Linked DNA regions of Homo sapiens: region 2 is linked to region 1. Evidence: fine-mapped QTL for protein levels in blood plasma. A gene starts in region 1. The other region holds a variant in brackets. All regions are shown on one strand. Distances are from middle to middle.

Region 1 (10,552 bases):
GAAAGGCAGTTAGGAAGGTTTCAGAAGAGGGAATGTTTAAGCTAGGTTTCACAGGATGGGAGTAGGGGGATAGAGAAGGGAGACCCAGCATTGCCAGCAGACAGAATAAATTGTGCAAGGGGTTCAGTTGAACTGAAGAAGTGCAGGTCCAGGGTGGGGCAAGGTGAAGGTGAAGCTGGAAAGATGGGTTGGGATCAGATGTTGAAGGGGTGTGGTCACCAGGCTAAGGAGTTTGGGCTTCTTCCTGTTGGCAGTGGACGCCATTACAGTGTTTTGGGCAAGATGACCTGGTCAGCTTTGCTCTTTAGGACGCTTGTCCGGGACGCTGCGTGCAGAGTGATTTGGAGTGGCAGGTGGAGAGCCAGGGATATGAGACAGGACACCATTGAGGTGGCCAGGTTGGAGACAACAGTGGCCAGGACTAGGGTAGAGTGGGGGGTGTGGAGGGGCAGGGATGGATTCAAGAGCTATGTAGGAAGCAGAACCTAGACCCTCCATGGGAAGGCAAACAAGGCTGAGGGGTCAGTGCCTGGGATTCCACTGCCGGAGGTTGCTGGGATGTGGGTCAGGGGAGCAGAGATCAAGGCTTATTTAGCCCCCACTGACCATTCCAGACTCCTGTCATGGCCCTCCCCGGCTCCCTGGCCCCACTTTGCCCACATGGCTTCTCTGTTCTTCAGATGTGAGAAGCTTCTTCTTGCCTCAGGGCTCTCACACATTCTGTTTCCTCTACCTGCAGCACTGTTCCACTTGGCTACAGCCTGCCCTGCCCACTCAGCCCTTGGCGTCTCTGATCTCAGATGGATAGGTCACTCTTGGATCCTCTCACAGAACAGAGCATGTGTGGTTCATGGGACTCACTCCAGCAGTGATGATACAATGCTGCTGCCCGTTCAGTACTGTGCCTCTACTTAACCAAAGCTCCTGGAGGACAGGAACTGTATCTGACTCACTCTCTGCCATATCCAAGCACTCAGCATGGAGCATGGCACTTAGCCGCTTGTTAAACTTTTACTGAATACATGAATGGTGAATTAATGGTGAGGTTTTCTTGGATGCACTGACATCCTTAATGGGCTGTTCAATAGCAGTCGGATATAGGAGCTAGGTTCACACTTTGATGGGATGACAGATTACGAAGTTTGTTACTATGAGTGAATCTAGAAGGTATTTGTCTGAAGAGGAGACCTTGGGGTGGGCTGGGATGGTAAGTGAGCTCAGTACTCCACAGGCTGCCCTTGACTTTACTCTGTACTTTGAAGGATGCAAAATTCAAGCGTCCTGGCTCCTTGCAGCAACTAGAATGTTCAGTAGCCATTTCTGCCACGTGGATAGAAATCTAAGGTCCAAAACAAGGAAGGGATCAAATCCCTTTGCTCCCCTCTGTCCCTTCCTCACTGTAACCTGGGACACTGACAGACAGACCTGTCAGTGATCAGATGAGAAATGGAGAGAGGCCCAGGAGCTTCACATGTGCAAGGGTAGGAGGCAGGCAGATGGCAGACCTGCTCAGCCTAAAGGTGCTTGTGCAAGTACAGGAGGTTCATGCAAGTACAGGAGGCCAGAGACAAAGCTATAAGCCCCAAGGACTCTCAGGGAGGCAGACCTCTTGTGTGAGGAAGGACTGTCTTTGTTCGAAGCCATCCAACAACGAAACTGGTAGGTAGTGAGCTCCCCATCACCATGAATGACCTCCCAGTGGGGCTGCTGTAGGAAAGCCCTAGTGGAAGAAGGGAGATGAAACCCAGATGACCATTATTTTTTATTTTATTATTTTATTTATTTATGTATCTATTTATTTATTTTGAGACCGTCTGGCTCCATCACCCAGGCTGGAGTGCAGTGGCGCAATCTCGGCTCACTTCAACCTCCGCCTCCCTAGTTCAAGTAATTCTCCTCCCTCAGCCTCCCAAGTAACTGAGATTACAGGCACACGCCACCACACCCAGCTAATTTGTGTGTGTGTGTGTGTGTGTGTGTGTGTGTGTGTGTATTTTTAGTAGAGATGGGGTTTCACCATGTCAGCCAGCCTGGTCTCGAACTCCTGACCTCAGGTGATCCATGCAGCTTGGCCTCCCAAAGTGCTAGGATTACAGGCGTGAGCCACCACACCAAGCCTATTTTTATTTATTTATTTATTTATTTATTTATTTAGGCAGTTTCTCGCTCTGTCACCAGGCTGGAATGCAGTGGCACAACCTTGGCTCACTGCACCCTCCACCTCCCAGGTTCAAGCAATTCTCCTGCCTCAGCCTCCTGAGTAGCTGGGATTACAGGTATGCGCCACCACGCCTGGCTAATTTTTTGTATTTTTGGTAGAGATGGGTGTCACCATGTTGACCAGGGCTGGTCTCGAACTCCTGACCTCAAGTGAATGCACCCGCCTCAGCCTCCTCCCAAAGTGCTGGGATTACAGGTGTGAGCCATGGTGCCTGGCCCCAAGATGACCTTTAAAGTCCAATTCCCCTTTTATAAGATGGCGTTTTTGCTTTAGGACAGGAAGTCATCATTAAATATTTTCTCTACCTGCCTAAGCAATGGAAAGATAGCTGCCACCTGCCTCAGAGGCATCCCTGGGACTGTGCAGTTTCCTAAGGAGGAACGGAAGGATCTTGAAGCTGAGTCAAGGATCACTGGGGGCCTCAAGCTAGTCTTGGCCACAGGTCTGGGGCTTCTATGGGTCTGTAGAGGTGACTGGATGGCTGGTGTCCCCAAAGGGACTGTTCTTTTTTTAATTAAAAAAAAAATTTTTTTTTAGAGTTGGGGTCTTGCTATATTGCCCAGGCTGGTCTCTAATTTCTGGGCTCAAGCAATCCTCCTGCCTCAGCCTCCCAAGTGTTAGGATTACAGGCATGAGCCACCGCACCTGGCTGGGGCTGTCCTCAAACAAGAATCCTTCGCCTTGTCATTGGAATATTCTTGCAACTTATCTGCAGGCTTGAAATCTTTCGAAATAAAGTTTTTCTTTAAAAAAAAAAAACACAGATTCTGATTTAAATATTTCAGAGCGAAGCTCAGCATCTGTATTTGTAAATTCTCCCCCAGGGAAATCCAATCTGCAGACAGAGCTGAAAAACACTGATCTAAATGAATTAGAGAAACGTGTATGTAAATAAAATGTATTTTATATATCAGAAATTCTTTGAGAGCAAATATCCAAATGACTTATTAATGTATACTATGTAAGTATGGGGGAGTTTTAGAAACTGATTTTTCTTTAAAAGAATCTTGTCTTTATTTAACCTATGAAGATACAGATGAGGCCGCGTGCAGTGACTCATGCCTATAATCCCAGCACTTTGGGAGGCCGAGGCAGGCAGATCACGAGGTCAGGAGTTCGAGATCAGCCTGGCCAACATAGTGAAACCCCGTCTCTACTAAAAATACAAAAAGTTAGCTGGGCAGGTGGCAGGTGCCTGTAATCCTAGCTACTCAGGAGGCTGAGGCAGGAGAATCGCTTGAACCCAGGAGGCAGGGGTTGCAGCCAGCCGAGATCGCGCCAGGCACACCAGCCCGGGCAACAGTGTGAGACTCTGTCTCAAAAAAAAAAAAAGCAAATGAACACATAATACCTGCAAAGCAAGAAGGCATCTTCCTTTTAATGTTTTATTTTGCCTTTGTTTTGCCTGTTAGTTGTGCCCACTTTGCGGTACAAAAAAATAAGTGAAATAAAAGTAAGTAAAAATGATCATTTCTGCTTACGTTTACAGCTCATTTCATATTCTGCAAAATGTTTTCCCGTCTGCTATCACCGCCGCCATCCTCACAGCAGCCTGGGAGAAAGGCAGAGCCAAAAGTCTCATCTCCACTTCGTGCATGGGTGATCTGAGGCCCAGTTAAGAAAAGTGGCTCTACCGAGGTCCCAGAGTTGGTTGCTGGAGGCACTGGCAAAGGAATCCAGGCTCCAGCCCCCTTCTCTGCCTCCTGCCATCTTCCAGTTGCTTTTTTCCTTTCTCTCTTTCTCTATCTCTTTCCCCTTCTCTCTGCCTTGAACTCTCTCTCTTTCTACTTCAACTTTCCTCTCCTTGCTCCAACCCTCAGATTGGAGTCAGCTTTGCAAGTTGTCCAAACTTTTTGTCACTCTGGAAACCTGCCAGCCCCATGGCCACAGCCCCATCTCATCAAAAGCTCAGCATCTGCACCTAGAGCAAGCCCTTTCCGGATGTCAGCGTGCAAAGATTAACTCTGGTCTCTCCATCTGGCCCTAGATAAGATAAGATTAGGAGAGCGGCACTATAAATAGGCCCCCATCCTTCCTCAGGCGCAGGCCCCAGCCAGCTCAGGCTACACTATCCCAGGATCAGCATGGCCGTCCGCCAGTGGGTAATCGCCCTGGCCTTGGCTGCCCTCCTTGTTGTGGACAGGGGTGAGTGGGCAGAACCTGGATTCTCTGTGGCTTTGTGTTGGTAGGTGAGCTTGGGGTGAGAGCAGAAGCAGGGCCTGGAGCACCCTGTGAGGCCTCAGCTTTTTCCATGTACCTTCATTCTGCATATGCACCCTCCACTGTGCTGGGGAAAGTTCTGGGCTGGGAGAAAAGAAACTTGGGTTCAAATCCTGACTGGCGCAGAATTACCAAAGTCCCCTACCCTCTTGGGGCCTCAGTTTCTCCAGCTGTAAAAGAGGGCATTGTTCCAGTTCAAAGCTGCACTGAGCAACTATTGGGCTGGAGGCTGTGGGGACAGAAGGGAGCAGGTAGGTCCCAGCTCTCAGGAGAGACTGACAAGTATGCTGGGTGCAGGGTGGTGGATGCTAAGAGAGACCTGGCCGAGGTCTTCTGAGCTCCCGATCTCTCTGAAAGGCTGTGGTTTGGGACTTGGGCAGCCATGTGAGCACGACAGAGCCCTTTCCCAGGACTGGACACATATACTTGGGGCAGGGCCCTCTCAGGATCTGGGCCATCCCTGCAATCTCACAGCTACCATGTCAGGCACTGTTCTGAGCCCTTAAGACAGATTAGTGACCCAAACAGAAAAAGCACGGTCCTGATGGAGCATAAATCCAATGGGGTAGAGGAAAAGGGGAAAGGCAATAAACAAGATGGTTACAATGTATGTTAAACGGTATGTTAGAAGCTGATAAAAGTTAAGGAAAAAATACTTGGCAGGGTGATGGGCACTGGAAGGGGGTTGCAATTTCAAATCAGGGGAGGTATCTCTGAGAGTCCGATGTTTGAGCAAAGCTTGAAGGAGATGAGGGACTAAGCCATGTGGATATCTGGGAGAAGATTCCAGGCAGAGGGAACAGCTCAGGTGCAAAGGACCTGAGGCAGGGGCATGCCTGGAGTGACTGAGGTACTGTAAGACCAGTGTGGCAGGAGGGGACATTGTACGGAGTGATAGGAGAGGAGATGAGAGAGGCAAATTGGAACTGTACCGGGAAAGACCTTGTTGGCCAACATAAGAACTTGGCTTTTCCTCTGACTAAAATGGGAGGCACTGAAAGCTTTGAGCAGAGAGTTATGTCTTTCAAGGGTTGCTCTGGTTGGTACATTGAGAATAAACTGAACAGGGAAGCGGGGAGACCAGTTAGGACCCGCCTGGACAAAAGCCATAAGTTATAAGGCAACGCCTGGCAGGATCCAGGGCCACTGACCTCATGGCCAGTCCCACACCCATTTCCCCAGCTGGAAACAGACCTGGGCACAGGGGGAAAGGGAAACGGGTCTGGGGACCTGTTCAGGAGCAGCCTGCTTACGCCCAGCCTGGCACCTACACCTACCTACTCCTTGAGCAGTTGGGAACACTGAAAAGCCTGCTCTGAAGAAGTTTGGTTTTTGTTTGTTTGTTTTTGTTTTTGTTTTTTGCACATTTCAGACTACTGCCTGGGCTGAGTGAGGAGGGGGCATTTTGGGTCAAGGTCAAGGGCAGCCTGGGGGTAAATGTAGCTTTTCCCCACATCCCCCAGAAAGAAACTCTGACATCTTAGAGTTCTGAACACCCCCTCCTCCCAATACACTTTAATTTTTTTTTTTATTTAAACAAAAATTTTTTTTTCAAGACAGAGTCTTGCTTTGTTGCCCAGGCTGGAGTGCAGTGGCACGATCTTGGCTCACTGCAACCTCTGCCTCCTAGGTTGAAGCAATTATCCTGCCTCAGCCTCCTGAGTAGCTGGGATTACAGGCACATGCCACCACACCCAACTAATTTTTGTATTTTTAGTAGAGACGGAGTTTCACCATGTTGGCCAGGCTGGTCTCGAACTTCCAACCCCAAGATTTGCCCGCCTCGGCTTCCCAAGGTGCTGGGATTACACCAATGCACTTTAGTATTCAATTCCTGAACACCCACAGTGTAGGACATTGAACCAAGTGCTGCGCAAAGGCAGACATAAAGGAACCCCAAGGAGCTCAGGTGCATAGGGAGGCGGGGTGACCCAGTGAGTGGGACAGTACATGGTGGTGTGAAAGAAGCCTCCATCCAGATCTGCTCAGGAAACTGTTGGGGACGTCAAGGACAGCTTCACTGGGGGGCAGCATCAAGCCTTGAAAGGAGGGTATGATTCGGCGGGAGGAGAACGGAGACGAAGACATTTCAGGGAGGGGACATGGCATGAGCCAAAGCAGGGCCCAATCTAGGACCCGTGAGCAGAGAGGAATAGCTGGGGCATGGAGAGGTGTACTGGGAAGTCAGCCCAAGAAGCAAGTTTAGGGTCAGCTTACGCAGTACCCTAAACATAAGACTAAGCAGCTCAGGTCCATAGGGAGGCTTAGTGATCAGGACAGGGAACCACGGAAGGGCTTTATATTTTTTAAATGCTTTTCTTTTCCCTAACAGTTAAATATCAAGAAATGCACAAATCTTATCACTCGATGAATCTTGACAATGTATACACTCGTGTAACCCAAACCCCCATCAAGATACAGGACCTCTTGAGACAAGGACTTAGGGAAGAAAAATAAATACAGAACATTTCCATAGCCCCAGAAATTCCCCTATGTCAGTCAATCCCTGCCCCCATCCCAGTGCTCTGACACTTTTTTTTTTTTTTTAAGAGACAAAGTCTCACTCTGTTGCCCAGGCTGGAGTGCAGTGGTGCAATCATAGCTCACTGCAGCTTCAACCTCCTGGATTCAAACGATCCTCCTATCTCAGCCTCACAAGTAGCTGGGACTACAGGTGCGTGCCACCACACTCAGCTAATTTAAAAATTTTTTTAAATTTATTTTTATTTATTTATTTATTTATTTTTGAGACGGAGTTTTGCTCTGTCACCCAGGTTGGAGTCCAGTGGCACAATCTTGGCTCACTGCAATCTCTGCCTACTGGGTTCAAGTGATTCTCCTGCCACAGCCTCCTAAATAGCTGGGATTATAGGTGTGCACCACCACGCCCAGCAAATTTTGTATTTTTAGTAGATATGGGGTTTCACCATGTTGGTCAGGCTGGTCTCGAACTCCTGACTTCAGGTGATCCACCTGCCTCAGCTTCCCAAAGCGCTGGGATTACAGGTGTGTGCTACTGCAACCTGCCCTCATTGTTAAATTTTTTGTAGAGATGAGGTCTTGCTATGTTGCCCAGGCTGGTCTCAAACTCCTGGCTTCAAGTGATCCTCCTGCCCCAGCTTCCCAATGTGATTTTTTTCCATCATAGATTAGTTGGCCTGTTCTAGGATTTCACATAAATGGAATCATAGGGTATATAATCTTTTGTGTGTGGTTTCTTATGCTCAGCAAACTATTTTTGAGATTCAGCCACGTTATTGCATGTATCAGTTGCTTGTTTTAATTGTTCAGTAGTGCCCCATTGTATTTATTTATCCATTCTCCTGTTGAAGGACATTTGGATCACTTTCAGTTTGGGCAATTTGACATGGAAGGGTTTTAAGCAGTTCAGTGACAGGTCTAGGTTTGCATTTTGATACCCCAATGCCAGGCTTAAACAGCACATTGGGGTGACTTAGTCTAAGTTTCTGTTTCCCTCTCTCTGTGGAAATACCCTGTAATAGCATCTCCAGGAAAATATAAAACTACATTGCCTTGCACACCTCCAGTGATGGGAAACTCACTACTTCTGGAGAAAGCCTCTTTCACTGTGGCATAGCTCCCACTGAGAGAAAATTCTGCTTCATATGGAACCCAAACCTGCTTCCCTGCAGCCTCCTCACAGAGATGGGCTCTGCTTTGTGAGGTTGAAAAGAGTCCATCTCTCCCTCAGCCCCAGGATAGCCCTTCAGAGACTTCAGGGAGCATCCTGCCCTTCTCTAATTTACATAAACGCCCTTCCTTCCACCTGTGCCATTAGACATAGCTCCAGTTCCCTCATCCACCCATCATGCTTGTCAGTCACATCACAGTTTGCTCATGTCCTTTAAGCAGTTCAGCCAGACCTTGAGGGGTACACCAGTGTATGTAGAAAGAGTCAGGCTCTGGACTGCAACAGACGTGTGGGAAAATCCTACCTCTGCCTTAACAAACTGCATTGCGTCACCTCTTTGAGCCTCTTTCGTAGTTCGTTAAACTGACCTATGCCCCAGGAAACAGATTCTGAGCTATACATGCAATTTACTGGGGAGCGTTCATGGGAGTAACATCCATGAAGGATGAGGGAAGTTGACTTCCATGCAGCACAACAGAGGCTTCAGATGATCCTACAGGCAGCTTTGGGCGAGGGGATCAGGCCCTTTGTAACCACATCAACCCGACATGGGATATGGGCTGTTCCTGGGTAGTGGATGCAGCCCTGGGCAAGGCAGCTTCATTCTCTGAGGGTAATTCCTAGGAAGAGACTTGCAGTGAGTGGTCAATATTTCTGGCAGCAGGGGAAATGAGTGCCTCAGACTTGCGCGAGGGCTCTTGATGGCAGAACACAGCATCCACTACTATCTCCTTTCTTCCCTCTGTTACACAGCAGTAAGATAGGGGTGGAGAGGAGTTAAAATCATGTGTTCTCAATGCCCGGCACATAATAACTGCTGAATTGCTATTTTATAATTATTATATGGGACACAACAATTCCAGTGGGATCTAACTAACAAGGAATAGGCTGGACTGTCACCTTCCTAATTTTTGAATTTCTGTCTCTGTTTATGGAACCCAAGATCACATCAGCTTTCTGGCAGCCCCATTGTCTGGTGGCTCATCACCTTTCCTTGAGGAATTCCAGGTTGGGTAGTTGCTGGACCAAGCTCCCTGAAGCAGAAGCAGTCCTCAGACCCCTAGACCTGGGGTCTAGAGCCGGCATAATCTAATTCTTGCTTCTTTGTGTTTCAGAAGTGCCAGTGGCAGCAGGAAAGCTCCCTTTCTCAAGAATGGTAAGGCAGCTGCGTGTTGTTCTCACCTTCTCTCTGCTGAGAGGAGTCCTCTCGTCCATGCTGAGAAACCAGTTATTCTTCTCCACGATCCTGCTCAGACACCTTCAATGGCTCCAAGGTGGCCAAGGTGGCCTCCTGGCCTGCACATTCCCCACATTAGCCCCCAAGGCTGAGTAGGCCCAGCCCCCTCACCCAAGTCCCAAGATTGGCCTCAAAGCCCTTATGATGTCCCCCACCTGGTGTCCAAGGCCCCTTCCATCAGTGAGATCTCCCCACCCAGGCTTAGCAGGACAGGGTGTGCTCTCTGCTCTGTATAGTGCAGACAGGCAGGCCACAGAGTTCAGGCCAAAGAGGGGACCCTGGCACACTGAAAGCACCTGTGGAGTGTGCCAGCCTCCCACCACCACATTCCATCTGATTGTCTAAACACCAAGTTGTCCCCGAATCCTGATTCCACCTTGGCCCTTGGCCTAATGCCCCCAGTGACCCAGAAGGCAGTGGTACTGGCATCCTTGAGACTCTTGAGATTGCCCCTTCATGTAGTGGAATGAGGAGGCTCGGAGCCACCTTCCCATCCACAGCCTCAGCATCGTCCCCGTCAGTCCATCAGAATCCAGCCCCGCTTATTCAGTGCCAAAGAGCCAAATAGTTTACATACATTATTTCAATTAGCCCTATGTGAGAGAAACGCCACTATTATAATTTTTACAGATGAGGAAACTGAGACTCAGAGAGTGGAAATACCTCAATTAAGGTTATACAGCTAATCAGTGGCAAAATTCAGGTTTCTAGGGTTCGGGCCTTCACGGTTGCACCGCACAACCTTTCTCAGCCTATCCCTGTCTCAGGCACTAATGCCAGTCCTGACTGAGTTCTCACCTTGACCTCAGGCCTGTCCTAAAACCCTTTCAGACAGCCTCAATTAAGCCCCAAGCTCTGCCCCATTTCTTCAGCCTTCGCACACTTTGCAGCCTTTCTGACATGGGCCTGATAGATCATGCAGGCCAGGGAGAGTTCAGGAGCCCCCAGGGAGAGAGGGGCCTCCTGGGAATGATGGGTGGTTCCGTATCCTGGGGTCTTCAATGGGACCAGCAGAAGTTCTGATTAGTGCCTCTGAAGAGGGTGTGAACAAGTCCCCAGGAGCTTGAGGGCACAAACTCACTCCACACACATAGACATAAACACAGGCATACGCTTGAATGCCTGCACACCGGGGGCTCCAGAGACACAGGTACACATATGTACACATCCAGCCATAGGCACACACGTGGTCATGCACACGCACATACAAGCAAACACACCA
Region 2 (12,201 bases), 13 kb before region 1:
CCTGAACACCTGGCTCAGCCGTTGTCCCAGGTGCCAGCACAGTCTGCCCACATCTGCTCCCTGACTAGTCTGGGGGCTACTGGGACACGTAGTCTTTGTAGCCGTACTCCCTAGCATGGAGGATGCTCAGCAGTTTGTTTGAGCAAATTAATGAACAAATTAATGGCATTTGAAGGTGATTTGCAAAAGGTATAGGTTATTAATATGTACATATATATTTTGAGATGGAGTGTCACTGTGTCACCCAGGCTGTAGTACAGTGGCACAATCTCAGCTCACTGCAACCTCCGCCTCCCAGGTTCAAGCAATTCTTCTGCCTCAGCCTCCTGAGTAGCTGGGACTACAGGCACGCACCACCATGCCTGGCTAATTTTTTTGTATTTTTAGTAGAGACGGGATTTCCCCATGTTGGCCAGGCTGGAAGGTTGTTAATATTTAAGACATTTCCTAAACCGTGTTCCCTGGGACACCAATTCTGACACCAATTCAGAGGGATGTTAACAGATATTTGTTAAATGTGGTGGGGGAAGTGGGAAGCTTTTGTAATCACTTAATCCAAGAAATGCTGGATGAAAAATAGACTCCTGAAAAGCTTCTCACAGCCTTTAATAAACTAGTGGTCAGTGCCAGTGTCCCAGAGAGAGATCCAGTGAGCAGCATTTCGCTCACTTCGTTGACCATAGAGAATACCTCTTGAGAAGCACCTTGCGGGGCTAGGATGCCGAGGAACAGAGGTGAGGGGCACAGTGAGCACTCTAGTGTTCACTCGAGTCTTGGAGATAATTAAGTTACAAAGGTCTAGAGAATTAATAGACACTTGATGAGGGGAGAGGGATGTCAGAACTGAAAAGCAGAGGAGGATGTTTCTTTCACAGACTGAGTCGTCCCACTTTGGAGTTTTGTTTTGTTTTGTTTTGGGGGTTTTTTGTTTGTTTGTTTTTGAGATTTTGTTTTGTTTGGGGGGTGGTGGTTGTTCGTTTGTTTGTTTTTAAGATGGAGTCTCGCTCTGTCACCCAGGCTGGAGTGCAATGACACGATCTCGGCTCACTGCAACCTCCGCCTCCCGGGTTCAAGCAATTCTCCTGCCTCAGCCTCCCAAGTAGCCCGCCACCACGCCCGGCTAATTTGTGTTTTTAGTAGAGACGGGGTTTCACCGTGTTGGCCAGGCTGGTCTCAAACTCTCAACCTCTGGTGATCTGCCTGCCTCGGCTTCCCAAAGTGCTGGGATTACAGGTATGAGCCACCACGCCCCACTTCTTTGGAGTTCTTATCACACTGCTGTGGGGCTCTCTCTGCTCTTCTGGGTTCCTCTGGGAGGGGAGCACAGGAGAAATTCTGACTCTGTCTTCCTCCTCTGACCTCTGCAGTGGCTGAGAGGGGGAGGTTAGGAAACCTAGAGAGAAGCGAACATGGAAGCCTGTTGATGCTCAGTCTGCTAAAAGACAAAGGACTCCAGAAAGTATCTGGAGATAAAGTGTCTCCAGGAGGAGCTTTATTCCAGCTAGAAAGCAGGGGAGGATGTTTTTTTAAAGGGCCATGTAATACAAGTCTATAGCCGAGATTGGGATTGAAATGAACTGATTAAAAGAAAGGAAACATCTAGAAAAAGACCCCAGTGAATCCCAGACTTCATTTATCTTAAAACAGTCATTCTCAGCTGGAGTGAATTTTGGTCTCCCATTGGACATTTGACAAGGTCTGGGGACATTTTTGGTTGTCACAACTGAAAAGAGGTGCTACTGGCATCTAGTGGGTAGTAGCCAGAGATGCTGCCAAACCTCCTACAAGGCACAGGGCAGCCCCTTACAACAAAGAATTATTAGGTCCCAAATGTCAGTAGTGTCACCATTGAGAAACTTTGCCTTAAAAGTTGTTTTTAAATATCAGCTTTAATTTACAATTTACAATGGTGCACAAATTCAGTTGCTATACCACAAAAAAATTGAGAGAAATTTATTCAGTATAAAAAAATCCAGATTAACAATTTGGTCACCTCCTTTGAGAATGAAAAAAAAAAAAAAAAGGACATCCAAATCTTAGTCAGCAATACTATTTTGTAAATTTAAAACACATCTCAAACAACACTTGCTATTTTGCAAAGAGAGAAGTAAAAGGATTCACAGCAAATATTCCCTTTAATTTAAAAGTTTAGGACATTGCTTAAATATACTTAATAACTTTTAGCATGAAGATTTTGAAGGAAATTTTTTATGATGCATCTTTTTATTTGTAAAAATTGTAAAAATTTATGGGGTACATGTGAAATCTCGTTACATATATATATAATGCATAGTGATCAAGTCAAGGTATTTAGGCTGTCCATCACCCAAGTACAGTACATTTTTGTTTAACTATAGTCACCCTACTCTGCTATCAAGCAATGAATGTATTCCTTCTATCTAACTGTTTGTACACTTTAACCCACTTCTCTTCATCCTTCCCCATCTCTTCCATTCATTCTTCTCAGTCTCTGTTCTCCGTATTTCCTCTCTTTACCTCAATGTAATCACATTTTTTTTGGCTCCCACATATGTGAGAACATGCTACGTTTGTCTTTTTGGGACTGGCTTATTTCACCCAAGATAATGACCAATTCTGGAGGAAATGTATTAAGTAGAAGGGGATAAAATGCTACAAATAAATAAATATTATGAGTAGGGATGGGGAGGATCCCACTACTGGCTATATAATTAAAGAGATTCTCACACAACTCCATAAAGAGACATGTAAGAGGATTTTTTTTTTTTTTTGAGACAAAGTTTCGCTCTTGTTGCCCAGGCTGAAGTGCAATGGTGCGATCTCGGCTCACCGCAACCTCCACCTCGTGGGTTCAAGCGATTCTCCTGCCTCAACCTCCCAAGTAGCTGAGATTATAGGTATGCACCACCATGCCCGGCTAATTTTGTGTTTTTAGTAGAGACAGGGTTTCTCCATGTTGGTCAGGCTGGTCTCGAACTCCCGACCTCAGGTGATTCACCCGCCTCGGCCTTCCAAAGTCTGGGGGGGGTGGATTATAGGCGTGAACTACTGTGCCTGGCCATAAGAGGATATTTTATCACCAAGTTATTTGTGATGGCTGGAGAGCTGGATGCAATGAGGCATTCATCATTGGGGAAATGAATGTAAGTAAAATGTGACATAAGCACACTACAGAATATTCTACCACAGTAACAAGCAATGAATTAGATACACACAAAAGGTCAAGAAATCTTTAAAACATGGTTCTGTCCAGTTGCAGTGGCTCAAGCCTGTAATCCCAACACTTTGGGAGGCTGAGACAGAAGGGTTGCTTGAGCCCAGGAGTATGAAACCAGCCTGAGCAAGATGGTGAGACCCTGTCTCTACAAAAAACAAATAAACAAGAGCAAAAAACGCCAAAACTCCACAATGCTGAATGGGGGAAAAAAGAAGAAAGGAACAGAAGGAGGCCTCCAGCACAATATTATTTTTTGAAATGAAAAATACCCACAAAACAATGCCACATGCTTTTGAGAACACTTGCAAATAGAATGATTTATGAGTCTTAGTCACTGCATAAACTTTACAGTTGAACTCTTGGAAATTACGCATCAGTGCCACCTGGTGGTAGCACTTCAAATTTGTGGCATAATTCAGTTTTGTTTTTAACAAGATAACATTTACATACAATGAAATGCACAGATCTTCATTTGATGATTTTTCGACAACTGTATACCCCAGTGTAATCCCTACTCTAAATAATATATACGGTATTTCCACTGCCCCAGAAGGTTCCCTCCTACTCTCCCCATGCCCTACCCTGAAAGCAACAACTGATCCGCCTCTGTCACCACAATTAGCTTCCCCTGTTGTAGAACTTACATATGTGGAATTATACAGAATTATACAGTGCATACTCTTTTGTGTTTGCCTTCTTTCAGGAATCATAATGTTTTAGCGATTCAGTCATGTTGTAGCACGTATCAATAGTTAATTCACTTTTATTGCCAGGTGGTATTCTATTGCATAGCTGTATTCCAGTTGGTCTATCTGTGCACCAACTGACTGACATTTGGATCATTTCCACTTATTGCCTAATACAAATAAAGCTTCTATGAATATTTACGAATAAGGCTTTGTGTAGACATATGCTTTTTATTTACTGTGGATGGAATTGCAAGGTCATAGCATGGATAGATGTGTAATTTTTTTAATTGCGAAAAACAATTCTCCAAATAAGTTGTATCATTTTACACATCCACCAACAATGTATTTGTATCAGCAATAAAAAGATGAACAACCCAGCTTATCTAAATAGGCAAAAAGTCGTGAATCAACATTCGGAGATATATAAGTAGCTATATAGTACAGGAAAAAGTGCCCACCATTATTAGTTTTCAGGAAAATGCAAGCTAAAACCACAATGAGATATCACTTTACACTCACTAGAATGTTAAAATGTTGAGAATGTGGAGAAATTGGAGGCAATTGGAAATCACACACACACACACACACACACACACACACACACACACCCCAGCTCTCTCAGGTCACCAGCTCAATTCCTTCACAAAAGAAGGATTCAGCTTGTGACTTGCACATTTCTGCATAGGCTACTGTTGGTCAAGCCTGGAAAGTTAAAAAGGCGGAAAGACAAATCTGCTGCTGTGCATTGGTGGCGTGGAGCCACAGGAGTGCCAGAGGCGTATACTGGGGCAGGCTCTTATACCTGTTTTTTACTGCAGTTCTTCATTCAGTAGGGAAAGCTTTCATAGGGGTCTATTAGTAGAGGTTGGCCCTGACCCTTCTAAGGAGAATAAGAGTGTCCTGAAGTCAAAATGAATGAAAGCCAGGTGAAGAGATGGGCAGGTTTCCATGGGCCCCGCATTGCCTGGAGCTGCCCAGAACATGGGGCTGGCTGTAGCTTCACCACCCAACTTCTCTCTTCCCTCTTCCTCTTTCTGTTTCTCCTCACCTCTCTCTTCCTCCTTTTCATAACGGCATCATGTATTAAGTTTTGTTATGAGCCAGGCGTTTAATTTTTTTTTTTTTGGAGACAGAGTCTTACTCTGTCACCGAGGCTAGAGCGCGGTGACGCAATCTCAGCTCACTGCAACCTCCCCTTCCGGAGTTCAAGCGATTCTCCTGCCTCAGCCTCCTGAGTAGCTGGGATTACAGGCACCCGCCACCATGCCAGGCTAATGTTTTTTTGTATTTTTAGTAGAGACGAGGTTTCACCATGTTGGCTAGGCTGGTTTCGAACTCCTGACCTCAAGTGATATGCCCGCCTTGGCCTCCCAAAGTGCTAAGATTACAGGTGTGAGCCACCGCACCCAGCCCTAATATATACTTTTTAATACAACACTTCAAGGTAGGCGTTATTATTGTTGTTGTTGTCATTTTTGAGACAGGGTCTCACTCTGTAGGCCAGGCAGAAGTGCAGTGGTGCTAACTGCAGCCTCCACCTCCAGGCTCAATCGATCCTCCCACCTCAGCCACCCAAATACCTGGGACTAGAGGCGTGTGCTACCATGCCTGGCTAATTTTACAATTTTTTGTCAAGACGAGATCTCGCTATATTGCCCAGGCTGATCACAAACTCCTGGGATCGAGCAATCCTCTCACTTCAGCCTCCCAAAAATGCTGGGATTATAGGCATGAGCCACGGCACCCTCACCCCATGAGGGAATGTGGGCTCTCCGGTTAAGGAATTTGCTTGAGGTCACAGAACTTGTGGATTCACACCCCATGGCTGCAGTCACAAATTACCACAAACGCAGAGGCTTCAAACAACATCAATGCATTCTGTTCCACTCGGGGGTCAGAGTCAGAAATGGGGCACAGGCTTGCTCTCCCTCTGGGGGCCCTACGGGAGAAAACGTCCCTTGCCCTTGCCAGCTTCTTAAGGCTGCCTCTAACCCTGGGATCCAGGCCTGCATCACCCCCCACTCTGCTTTCATCATCACAGCTCCTTCTTTGACTCTCCCTCCTCCCTCTTATGAGAACTTTATGGCCCAAGCTCACCCAGGTAACCCAGGATAACCTCCCCATTTCAGGATCCTTCCTTTGATCACAGATGCAGAATCCCTTTTGTCATGTGAGGTAACATATTCACAGGTTTGGGGGATAAGGAGGTAGGTATTTGGGGGGATGGGAGCATCGGTCTGCCTATCACAGTGAGTGAGTGGCCAAATGAGGGTTCAAACCCGGTTCTGTCGTATTCCTGAATCTGGGATCTTTCTCCAAACCACACTGCCCCTTCCTTCAGTCCTTCCTGTCCTTGGAGCTGTCCTGGGTTCCCAGCAAGCACAGATTCTCAGAAAGGGACAGCAGAAGACCCTAAGGCTGGACATATCAGGATATCACATATCCTGGTGAGAGTCCAAAGACTTCTTTTCAAATCTGGGAGGGAAGAGGAGAGACGGCAGGAGACTCCATGCCCATACCCCATTCACCATAAAGGGAGGGGGAGGTTGGCCTTGAGGGCCAGACAGGAGAGGTTCTGCAAAGGGAGCAGTGTACCCTCTGAACAATGCCGAGGACAGCACAGGTACTATGTGAATGTTGGTGAGGAGGGTGCAGGTTGCTGGGGTCGGTGGTGGGATGAGTAGCAGTATTTTGGACCCCGTGTCTAAATTCAGCCTGGTCATAGATACTGCCAGTGGCTGTGTCTGGGAAGATGCCAAGCTGGGGTCACATGGGTCCTGCCTGCTGAACCTATAAGTGCCGTGGGGCATGTGTGGCAGCTCCTCCCACCTTCTGCCTGGACCCCCTGGAATGACTGCCTTTTGGAGAGGGTCTATATTCAGGGACCTCTAGACCTTAGCTGGGCCCAGATGCAAGGAGGTTCCACCTGTGGTCCACACTCGACTATTTTGGCAACTTCCTGCCAAGGCTGGACCACAGAATTTTCCACGAAACTCACTTCAAATTGTGCGGCTCTTTCAGCTCCTGCTATTTCAGTTACTGGGCCAGGATGGGCTTCTGGGTGTATGTATTTAAAACCAGAATCTATGGTGGGCAGAGGAATCTGGTAAGAGTCTGAGATTTAAAATCAGATATTGTTTTGAATGCCGGCTCTGCCACTTACAATGCTGGAAACTTCGAACTTGTCATTTAATCTTTCTGAGCCTTAATTTTCTCGTCTGTAAAATAGATAGAATTATAAGGCCAGGTTAAGAGGCTAAGAGGGGGAACTCCTTGTGCGGATCTAAGGACCCCTCCTCGAGGCTGGGAAGAAAGAGGTGGGCAGGAGACCCTGGGCAGGGGACCATGCCCAGATCACACCCACCACAGGGAGAGGGCAGCAGA[G/C]ATCTTCGGGCAGCTTGAGGGTCAGGTGGAGACAATCACCAGGGAGGGGCAGACAAGCCCTGAGGCCTCACCTGTCAACGCACTGACTCACCTCAAATATTTACTGGGCGCCTTTGAGCATGAGAACTAGACCTCTCCCTTGCCTGCCTTGGACCAGTGCCCATGGGCATGTTGAAAGCACCTGCCTGGAAGAGAGTCTGCCTTAAGAGGGTGGGTACCAACCAGGGCCACCTTGGATATGGAAAAGAAACATCATGAAAAGGAAAGAATTTCCAGGGCTCCTGGAACCGACTGAAGACTTTAGCCTTTTGGGCTCTGAGGCTGTGCCATTTGCCAGGCTCCAAAATCGCTAATCATTTTATCCTGTTCCTTTGGCAACAATAGGGTACATGTGACCTCAGCCCGGCCCATCACAGATGCCCAATTTCCAGGCCACATTGATTGGTTCAAGAGATGAGCACATGACTTACCCAACCCAATCAGAGTCTCCTCTTGGGTTTTTATACACTGAAGGAGGCTGTGGGGAGAGGAGAAAAGTCCCTTCTGTTCCTTTAGTTCACAAAGTTGGGAAAAGCGGTCTGCAGCCATACCTCCCCATCCCTAATAGCAAACAGTAAGCCTGTCTATAAGTGGGAGAGCATGATGACAGCCCCCCCAAAGAAAAGTATGAGAGTGGGAGATTGTGAACAAAACTCTGGTTCTCCCCAGCACACCCCAGGATCCTTTGGGCAGGTTGCATGGCCTCTGAACTTTGCTGCTGGATACCTTACCTGCCCCCACTCCAGTTAAGTGCACACTACAGGGCCCATGGAATCTAAGGGGAATGGCACCCCCTGGAGATGAACAGAACACATTCCACACAACCACATGAAGTAGCCCTGATTACAGGTGAGCAACTGAGGCTCAGAGGTGCAATGACACACCCAAGGTCACACAGACAAGGTGTCCAGACTCCAGAGCCCAGGTTCTGATGGCATGGCTGCCTCCTGGCCCACCCCTGGCACAGCCCAGAAGGGAGGCAGCACTCAGGACTCCAACATGAGTCTGGGAGCTGTTACTCTGGACAACGGCACCCCTGTGTCCAGGAGCCATCAGGAGGCCCTTGTTGGGCCAGCTTTATGAAGCCCTGGGCTCTTGTGAGCGAATTCATCGTACAAGTGAAAGATCAGCATGTGGCCATGGTGAAACCCTGTCTCTACTTAAAATACAAAAATTAGCTGGGTGTGGTGGTGCGCGTCTATAATCCCAGCTACTCGGGAGGCTGAGGTGGGAGAATCCCTTGAACCCGGGAGGCGGAGGTTGCAGTGAGCTGAGATCGTGCCACTGCACTCCAGCCTGTGCAACAGAGCAAAACTCTGTCTCAAAACAAAACAAAACAAAGTAAGCATGTGGGGAAGGTTTAGTAACATCTGTGGCTTTTGTCTGACCAGCAACATTCCTCCTTTCGGTAATAGAATCCCAGGTTTTCTTTGGAGACCTACTTACCTTCATTGGATACAAATAAGGGACTGTCCATAAAAATGCCTTCCCTTCCCTGGTCAGAAAGTAGACATGGGCTGGGCACAGTGCTCACATCTATAATGCCAGCACTTTGGGAGGATCACTTGAGCCCAGGAGCTCGAGAACAGCCTGGGCGACATAAGAAGACCCTGTCTCTACAAAATAAAAATAAAAAATTAGCTGGGCATGGTGATGCATACCTGTGGTTCCAGCTACTTGGGAGGCTGAGGAGAGAAGATCGCTTAAGCCAGGAAGGTCAAGGCTGCAGTGAGCCGTGATCTCACCACTGCACTCCAGCCTGGGCAACAGAGCAAGACCTTGTCTCTAAAACAAAAACCAAAAAAACGGAATGTGGACACATAACTCTAGGTTTTTTGAGCCCAGTTCTTTTGGGGCATAGTTTTTTCAGCTTGTCACCTAGTTTTTTGTGCAGCTGTGGTAGCAGGCACTGTCAGTGTCCCACCCACACTGTTTACCACTCCCCATTCTTGTGCATACCTGCGGCCTCCCTGTGCAACCCTTGCAATCCTTTGCCCGGAGGCTTTCTCTAGGAGCCCAGAGACATGAAAGGAGCTAGCCGATAGTGCCAGGGAGTTAATGGTCTCTCTTCCAGCAGCCCTCAATCAGCGACTGTTGGGAGTTGCTGGATATATACCCCAATTCCTTCACCTCTCAGTGGGGATAACTCTGCCATGTGTGCCACACAGTGTCCCAGCCATCCCTGGTTGGATTGAGGCCCAGTTTCCCCAGTGGTAACCTCAGCGATGCATACATTATTAGTTCCCTTCCCTGCCTTCCTTATTCCCACTCTCCTGCAGGTGTTTCGTGGGATTGCCTCCCAGAAAATGATTTGGAATCTAATGTGCTTTTCTCATGGTCTGCCCCTGAGTCCAACCTAAGACAATACCACATCCTTCTGGAAAATTATTATTCTGCTGAGGTTTGCCAAAATCTACTTCTGTTGCTTGCAACCCAAGGACCCTATCAAAATTCATAGTGGTCTGGAGTTGTGACATGTTGCACCAGGCTGTGATAATCTGATTTTTCTGAAGGCCATCAGAGCTCTGGAACGGAAGGGGGTATCAAGAGACTTTGTTCTAAGCTCTTTTGTATGTATGCTCAGAGGACTTGAGCCACTGGTTATGTCCATGAATGGAAATGTTTGGATGGCACAAGGTCCCAGAACACCAGGTCTCTTGAGCAGCCCCACTCCTCGATGGGTCTGTATGATAATCCCTTATGGTTGGAGGTGATCAAGCCAAGAGTCCATGCACCAGGAGAGAAGATAGGCACTGAAACTGTTTCCTGTGAGTTCAGCAGATGGTCTTGGGGTAGCTTATGGAGACAAAGCACCACACTCAGGTCTTAGAGGAGATACTAAGTTCTTAGGTCCCCAGCCAGGTTGGCTAAGAGCTAGTAGAAAATGTGGTCCTTGAAATAGAGTGCCACCTCTGTTCCCACCTATATGGACACAGCATAGGATGTCACTGGCTGGACCCAGTGGACCCACTAGAGTCCAGCTTGTCCTCAGAGCTTCCTCAAGCCCTCAGTCCAGCAGACCAAGCATCTGAAGCTGGCATCCTTACTGTCCTGAGACTTCATCCAGTGCAGGATGGATTCAAATAGTCAACACACACATGCCAGGCCCTGGGCAGAGCACTGGGGATATGAAGTGACTTAAATGTCCCCCTGTTCCTCTCTTTAAGGAAATATGAGAGATAGTCACATAGGCAAGATAAGGTCATGAAACATTACAGCTGCTGCTGGGATAGATGTCTGTGCAAACATGGTCCCCAAACTGGAGTGGGCTGAGGGTCTGAGAGGAGAGCCCAAGGGGAGGTAATAGAGGGGCACGCCAATCAGGAAGAACAGCATAAGAAAAGGCTTGGAGGCGTAAAAGCCTGCAGGTGGTTCTATCGGATGGGGTGAAGGCTCAAGTGGCCAGAGGTGAAGTTAGAGAGGCCAACAGAGGACCAGTCGTGGCGGAACTTTTATGTCATACAAACCAAGGAGCTTGGTTTTCATGCTTGAGTCATTGTGATTGAGTAACTTTAGTTGAATTGACTATCTGTAATTGAATAATATTAGGCAGAGGGATGATGTGGTCATTTTTGCATTCAGAAAGATGGCTCTGGAAGCAGAATGGATTGGAGGAGGTGAGACTGGAGGCAGGGAAACAGCATGAGTAATGAAGGTGAGAGATCGCAGAGGCTGAACTAGGGGAAATATAGAGGAGGTGATGGATATGAGAGGTGGTGAGGAGGTGAAATCAGTAAGACCTGGTTCCTGGAATGTAGAGGTGAAGGAGAAGCTCAGGATGGTCCCCAGATTAGCCTAAGGCAGTGGGGTGATGGTGGTGCTGTCCACCCAGGTGGGGGAACTGGGAGGTAGGGCAGCTCTGGGTGGACAGAAGATGGAAAGTTGACTTTTGGACATATTGAGAAGGGGGTCCATAGGATAATGGGGTGGAAGGAATATCTCTATTTCTATCACAGCTCTCACCACAGCATTTTATAGATTCCTGCTCAAGAGTCCATTCCACCTCTCCACCACTGGTGAACTGCAAGCTCCTTGAGTCCAAGTCTCACTCATCTCTGGAGTCCCAGGGACTGGCATAGTGATTGGTGCCCCACAACAGGTGCTCAATAAGTGTCCATTGAATGGTAGAGTGGATGCCCCCATGGAGGGATGACTTCAGCTCATTTCATCACTGAGCATTCCTTGGAGTCAAATCCCAAAAAAGTAGATGAAACCTCTCCTTAAAGTAGTGTCCTCCCATTGCCTGCCCCCTACAGCTCTGGACCAAGTGGAATGGGCAGGTGGGCTCTAGACCTGGGACATAGAGTTGGGTGGCTGAGGGGCCCAGGACAGGCTGTGGAGCTGGCTCAGTCCAGACCAGGTCTCCCTGGAGGGGATGCCCACACCTGGGTAGCTCACACAGGTTTCCAGGCAGGTGGGGGCACTTTGGGCTGGAGGAAGGGTGGAGCAGGATGTGAGCTGGAGGCCAGGGAAGGTGGTCCCAGGGCAAACTGGCCATGCTGGCCATGCCATCTGGCAGACCCAAGCTCTGCTGGAGCTCAGCTCCCCCACCTTAAGCTAAACAAGGCCTCTGTCCCCACCACCCATCAGCAGAACCCATGACTCAGACCTGATGGATCCAGCATTGCCGTCATCAAGGAGTGGCTGTTTACCTCAAGGAGCTGGGCACCAGGCCAATCTAAGCAGATGGCATGAAGGCTGCTGGGTGAGGCTGGGGAGTGTTGGCCCAGCCAAGGCACAGGACCCAGGTTTTCACTCTGACCTGGGGCAGAAGATGCAGGAATTGCCCAGCTTTCCTGCCTGAGCCCTGTTTTAGGTCATCTGTGTCCTGATTGTATTGATTCCAGGACCTGTGCAGGTGCCCAGGGCATTTAGGTCTTGGCCTCTCCTCTG

Which allele goes with the higher level. Positions count from the first base shown, and alleles are read on the strand shown. Strength reflects both the effect of a copy and how common the allele is.
As copies of G replace C in region 2, the plasma level of the protein whose gene starts at base 4,264 in region 1 goes down (weak association).

Evidence for each region. PIP is the posterior inclusion probability: the model's chance that the variant is causal. The UK Biobank Pharma Proteomics Project read protein levels with antibody pairs (Olink). The fine-mapping took linkage between variants from a reference panel, not from the people measured, so its PIPs are less certain.
Region 2: its variant is fine-mapped to the plasma level of the SPINK4 protein (UK Biobank, PIP above 0.99).

Annotation. Positions count from the first base shown.
Region 1 is chr9:33,235,904-33,246,455 of GRCh38, forward strand. It overlaps SPINK4 (serine peptidase inhibitor Kazal type 4), which reads left to right and starts at 4,264. Exons shown (of 4, transcript NM_014471.3): 1 at 4,264-4,366; 2 at 9,209-9,249. The coding sequence starts at 4,306.
Region 2 is chr9:33,222,214-33,234,414 of GRCh38, forward strand. No RefSeq gene overlaps it. Among named protein-coding and RNA genes, the nearest start is that of SPINK4, 12 kb to the right of the region's middle. RefSeq lists enhancers at 4,883-5,052, 11,190-12,201. The variant G/C (reference allele first, on the strand shown) is at 7,270.